2 separate regions of the Homo sapiens genome follow, and region 2 is reported to be linked to region 1. The links are microRNA targets in miRTarBase. Many come from high-throughput screens and were not tested one by one. Region 1 holds a microRNA gene; the other region holds the end of a gene's coding sequence.

Region 1 (3,194 bases):
GAGGCTTTGAATCTCTCAGAAAAAAGGAAAGACAGGAAAGCTCAGAAACAAAGAGACAGAAGGATGAAAAAGAAGAAGAGGGAGGTGGTGGGGACGGCGTCATCCCGCTGGAGGAGCTCAGCTCTGGGATGATGTGGTGGCTGGTGGTCAACCGTCCGCCGCAGGGGGTGGCCATGAAGATGGAGTCGCCGGTGCGGGGTGGGTGCTGCGGGCGCTGCTGTTCCGATGGTGTCTTTGATGTTGGGCTGATGAGGTCTGGTTCCTCTAGCTTCACCTAGAGATAGCGACACGTGGGTGGGATGGGGGCAGGGTGCTCGGGGGCCTGGAGGCTTCCGGAAGGAGCGCTGGTGCTCACCTTCCAGAGCCGATTCCTGAGTCAGGTAGTGCAGTGGTTGTAAAGTGCAGCATATTCATTTCCAAGCTAGAGGGTTTTGTGTCCGGATTCAAAGGCCCAGGCTTGAGCTGGGTAGCACCATTTCTGTGGATGGGGAAGGAGTGAGGTCCCACTCAGCTCCTCTCGCGTGCCCCCCACCCCAAGTGTGGCAGGAAGCCCCTCACCTTTCATGTTGTGGGTTCTGGGAGCCCAGAGGGCAGCCATAGTGTGCCGACTCCGTGGAGGAAGTAAAGAAACAGACCCGCTTCTTGCCGCAGCCCCACCAGCCTAAGGTGTTCTGTAGAAGACAGAGGTCGGGGCAGTGAGATGGTGGCCCGGCGGGGCGGTCTGGGCAGGGCCGCGTCCTGACGCAGGGAGGGCAGACACGCTCACCAGGAAGGCCGGACGCGCCTCCTCTGTCCTCGCCGTCACACCGGACCATGTCATGTCCTGCTTGTCACGTCCACCGGACCTGGCGTCTTGGCCTTCGGCAGCTGGTGGGCACGTCCACCCCAGCTGGAGACCTGGCTGTGGGGAGAACGAGAGAGTCGTGTGGGGAGAACGTGTTGGTTGTGTGGGGAGGGGCGGGTGGGGGCTGAGGGTGGCAGAGGGGGAAAAACTCACCCTCGTCTCCAGCCCGAACGCTGAGGCACCGATCCCGGCTCCGTCGCCGCCCGCGAGGCCCGCCTTGGCCACGGGCTCTGGAGGCCAGTGCCTCCCGCTCGCCGCCCGCTGCGCTCCTCACCCCTGCCTGCACCATCCTCCCTCCTGAGAGCTCATTCACTCCGCCCCGCCCGCCTCGCCTAGTCTGGTCTCGCCCCATGCCCTTGACTCCCCTGGATGCTGTACTGTCTGCCAAGCCAGCCCCAGGGGCTGAGCGGTGAGGGCATACAGCGTCACCAAGTCCACTGTGGGCCCTCTCCGCACCAGACCCTGGGCCGCAGTGCCTCGTGGGACCGGCGCCCGCAGGCCGAGCCCCTGCAGCCTCCTTGCTGCGCAATGTCCCGGGGCCCCCCTCCCGTGGCCGCTTCGCCCTCCTGGTGACGTCCTGCTGCAACTCCCCGAGCACTGCCTGTCTTCCCGCTCTCCAGCCCTCGAGGCTCCGGCATAGGCCTGAGAAAGCCGTGCCGGAGCTGCCCCTGTGCCTGCTACTAAATGAATTGCGGTGGGTGAGGTGGCAGCTGGGGACCCCTCTGTCCTGTGTCCCCTGCCATGTCCCTGTCTGACCCAGGCCTGGGGTACCACCCCACGTGCTGGACCCTACGCTGGCCACCCCTGTGCTCCCTCCCTGCCCTCTTGCTCTTTCTGCCTGGAACGGGCCCATAACCCCCCAGCCTTGCGCAGTCTCGGCTCCCCCCGAGAAGATGTCACCTTTGCTAACTCTCCTGCCCCCATCCTGCCCCTCTGCTGGGAGGGTGTCTGCTTCTCCCCGCCAGCCCTCGATCCCCTAAACCTCCTTCTTTCAGAAGGCTGGGGAAGCGAGGCCTGGGGAGGGAAGGGACTCACCTGCCCGGCAGATGGGGTCCTCACCTGCCCGCTGCTGCCAGCTACACCTCCGTTGCCCAGGCCCTGGGATCAAACCCTGCCCACCAGCTCCCCTCGTCCAACCAGCTGCCACGTCCTGTAACCAAAAGTGACCGGGATGAATGCCTGGCTCCCCCTTCTTTCCAGCCCTAGCTCAGGCCCATCGTCCCCAGCTGATGTCGCCCTGTCTGCACGATGCCTGGGCGCCTACTCCACACTCCTCACTGGCCTCAGGCCCCACCAGCCCTGCCTCGAGCTAGCCCCTCCACCCGTCATCACTCCTGCCAGACTCCAGATGTCCAAGGTGCTCCTTGGCTCCCACAAGCTCTCCTCCAGCACCCCATCTTCCCCTGGTTGCCCCTCGGTTCCCCACTTCCCCAGTTTCCCCCGTTACCCCCCACCCATCCCACCCCCTCCCTCACCCTGCTCCTCGGTCCTAGCCCGGGCTTTTTCTAACTGGGGTGGCCCCGCCCAGAATTCCCGCCCCTGCCCTGCCGGCCAATCAGAGCAGGGCCCTCCCGAGGGCCCCCGCAGGGCCCACCTCCGCCCTGGACAGTTCCAGCACACGTCTCTCTCACCCAGCACCCATCCTGGAATTCTCCAAAGACGGCCTCCCCGCACCCCTCCTTTGGCATCCGGAGACAGGGCTGAGCATTGCCCCATCACCTCCCTCAGGGTCCAGGACTTCTCCCTCCCAGACCACTGTCTCCCCTCAGGGGACACCATGCCTGCTGCTCCCTGCCTGCCAGCGCCCTGCACATACTTTGCACATGGCTGGGGGCCAGCTGCGGGTCCCTGGGGACTCGGATGGCACAGAGGGCCCCTTCCTGCCACCATCACGGCTCAGACCTCACGTTCCTGGAGAGTAGGGGTGGGGTGCTGAGGGGCAGAGGGAAGTGCCGCAAACCCCCTGGTGGGCGCGGTGCCAGCCCCCCAGGCCGATTCCCATCCAGTTGACCGAGCTTGTGCTGGTCACCGCGGTTTCCGCAGGACAGAGTCCCCACAGCCGCTGGGCACCCCGGTCCCATTCGCGGCCACTTTCCTGTCTGAAGACCGCATGTTGCCGGGCTGTGCTTACGGCTCGCGGGCGCACTCTACTGACAAGCGGTGGGCGGCCTCACAGACTCTCCCAGGCCCGCGTGGGGCACCACGGTTGGGAGTGGAGTGGAGACTGGCGAGTTTCGACTCCCCCAGCCACCCCGCTGTGGGTCCGTCGGTCACCACCTTGGCCTTTGGTGAGGGTTGTTGGGGCCCTGCAGTCCCTGGGGTTCACCTCAAGTCTCGAGTGTCAAAGCCG
Region 2 (3,097 bases), not on the chromosome of region 1:
GGTGCAGTGAATGTGGGAAAGCTTTTAGCAGCAAGTCATACCTAATTATACACATGAGAACTCATTCAGGTGAAAAACCATATGAATGTAATGAATGTGGGAAAGCCTTCATTTGGAAATCACTACTCATTGTACATGAGCGAACTCATGCAGGGGTCAACCCTTATAAATGCAGTCAATGTGAGAAATCCTTCAGTGGGAAATTACGCCTTCTTGTACACCAGAGAATGCACACAAGAGAGAAACCATATGAATGCAGTGAGTGTGGAAAAGCCTTCATTAGGAATTCTCAACTCATTGTACATCAAAGAACTCATTCAGGAGAGAAACCCTATGGGTGCAATGAATGTGGGAAAACCTTCTCTCAAAAATCAATTCTCAGTGCACATCAGAGAACACATACAGGAGAGAAGCCTTGTAAGTGCACTGAATGTGGGAAAGCCTTTTGTTGGAAGTCACAGCTCATTATGCATCAGAGAACTCATGTAGATGACAAACATTGATAATTTTACGAAACTCTGAAAAGTGGATTCACAAGAGATAGAAACAATCATATATAAAGAGAAACTCTGTAAGTGGAATCATCTTGTCATCTTCCAGAAAACTCATACTGAATAGAAACTTTATGAATGCACAGCATATGGAAAGGCATCCACAGAAAGCTGTTCTTTACATGCAAAAAGATAGTAGACAATACACAGGAAAACTGAATTTAGTAACCACTCTGAAAATTTTTAGCAGCAAGTCATACCTTTTTTTAAAAAGTTCATACAGGTGAGGAACCATGTTAAACGTTGTAAAGTCATTTTACTAAAATAAGATTCACAAAGAGGAAACTTCATGAACCAGATGAATATAGAATAGACTTCTTTGAAATTCATAGTTTACAGAATTTTAATGAGAGAAATTATTGAGCTAATGAATGGCAGAATTAACAAAATTACAAACATTTTATGTATCGGAAGCATATACCTTGGAGGGACCATGCTATAAGGGAAAGTGTAAATCTAGAAATGAGAAACCCCTAGGGAAAAAATATATATAGGAGTGAACATCTTATGAATGTACCAAATAAACCACAGCTGGACTGTTAACCTCACCTTAGAAGCTTCATTCTAAAAAAAAAAAAAAAAAAAAAAAAAAAAACCAACCTGTTATTATATCTTAATATTAATTTTGAAGAATTATTTCTTTTAGGAATCATTTTAAGAAATTTTATTCCAGGTGTTCCAAAATTTCAGGAAAAGGTTTGAGAAAATTCTCAATTATAAATAATAAGATACAGATTATTTCATTGTACAAGTGAATCTAGTAAGGAGGTTAAGAATAAGAAATAACATCCCAGAGCCTACAGGGATATTTAGATATCTTCCTATGTGTACTACATAATATGAATTTTGCAGTTTGGCATTTTACTTGCGAATGCCATATGTGAGACAAAAATCATCTTCCAGAGATTTCAGTATCTCTGATACTGACAATATCTCTGATATGACAATATCATCTTCCAGAGATTTCTACTCTGCATACCAACATTGTTTCTTTGTGTCTTACCAAATGCAACTTGTTACTAGAATATGACTTACTAAAAATGCATTTCCACACTGCAAACATTTTTTAGGGCTATCTTCTGCCCTTTGGAAGCAGTCTTGGCAGCAACCTCTTTAGTAATCAATATAAGGCACACTTCATGTGTTTGTGTAGCCTGGAATCTATTCTACCTTCACAGGTTAGAACATCTTGATTTCCTCTTAACGAAACATTCCCTAACGGTGTATGTAGTCATGAGGGAACCACCATTCAAGATGCCCTGCTCAGGACTTGGCATGAGCACTATGGTCAGCTGAGGCTCAGAACTGTACATTGTTAATGGGTTTTTCAAGTTCAGAAAAGCAACATGAGCTTTTGTTCTGTGGTAGCATGTTGATGTAATAAGTAGCTATTTCAATAGAGGTTCCCAGAACAGCTTTTGTTACTGTCATTTTCTTAACTTTGTTCACTTGTCTTTTATTTTGAGCTATTGGGTGTGCTTTTAATACATTCCTTGTTTGATTGCATTAGCCATTGTGTATCTTTTGCATACAGCTTACTAAATCAGATGGCTTCAGAAATGGGTGGTAGAGGAGTAGGCAGAAACTTGCAAGGATATGTGGATATTTGGAAATGGTTGTTTCCCAAGACAGGATGGAAGTCTTTTAAGCAAGAAACTTGGCCCATGCTATGAAGTCATGAAATGAATTGTTGGCATCATGTGCTCACTGAGGCTTTGGGGAAATGGATAAGTTGTCATTGAAAAATTTTAAACAGAATTCTGGAGTGGTCAAGAGGGGAATGCTTTTGATACCCATGTATAACATGGAGAATAATGATCTTAAAACTTCAATTTAAGATTATGTGTCAGTGATACTACTTAGTTACATGTAGCTATAGAGTCACAGTGGTGAAAAACTCTGCCAGTTGCTTACTCACAAAGTTAGTTTTCTTCACTACCTCATCAGGTTTGTTATGTGAGTGGGCATTAATCTGGGAAGAGTGGGACCCTGCCAGTTAGATTAGGGCTATCTTGGAGGAATATGCGGATTCAATACTGCAAATATTTCTGAAACACCTTCTGCTTTGTACTCTATTAGATACCCAAAGAAATTTTCATCCTTGAAGCGGAGGAATTTAATGATACCTGAATGCCTAACTGTTGTATTCTGCTTATACAGAATCCAATCTCAAGATACTTGGGGTGAAGAATGATGATTCACAGAAGGGAAGGGACATCTTACATAAACAAATAATCGCAGATACTTGCTAAAGTGTATCCCCCAATCTGGGAAATACTGTAAAGGTGTATATTATTATTGATGTACCAAAGAAGACAGAATAAATTCATAAGAGAAAGTTTATATTCAGTTTACTACTACCTAGGGTTAGATTTTAGTTTGTTGTTTTTTCAGATGCAAATCTACATGCAGCCTTGCCTGGTAGAAGCCAGAAGTGTTGACAGTATTGAGGACAGCACTCACATACTGTGGGAAAGAATAATACTTGATTAGGACTTATTATTTAATGAAATGAAAATTTTACAAAACAGAAATTGAGTTACTGG

The links. The annotated mature microRNA hsa-miR-675-3p reads CUGUAUGCCCUCACCGCUCA and lies in region 1 at 1,248-1,267, opposite strand. An mRNA with a match to its seed (bases 2 to 7 or 8) in the 3' UTR can be bound and repressed. Matches are read on the target gene's strand: a 7mer-m8 pairs with bases 2 to 8, a 7mer-A1 pairs with bases 2 to 7 and ends in A, and an 8mer does both.
Region 2: the mRNA of ZNF268 is a reported target of hsa-miR-675-3p. Seed matches in the 3' UTR shown: 7mer-m8 at 2,078-2,084.

What each region holds. Positions count from the first base shown.
Region 1 is chr11:1,995,521-1,998,714 of GRCh38, forward strand. It overlaps MIR675 (microRNA 675), which reads right to left and starts at 1,311; the gene lies at 1,239-1,311. H19 (H19 imprinted maternally expressed transcript) reads right to left here and starts at 2,322. Exons shown (of 5, transcript NR_002196.3): 1 at 998-2,322; 2 at 767-901; 3 at 559-671; 4 at 356-478; 5 at 1-274. It also overlaps a transcript of MRPL23 not described here. RefSeq lists enhancers at 1,834-2,681, 2,682-3,194.
Region 2 is chr12:133,204,028-133,207,124 of GRCh38, forward strand. ZNF268 (zinc finger protein 268) reads left to right here. Exons shown (of 6, transcript NM_003415.3): 6 at 1-3,097. The coding sequence ends at 503. Among named protein-coding and RNA genes, the nearest start is that of ZNF268, 24 kb to the left of the region's middle.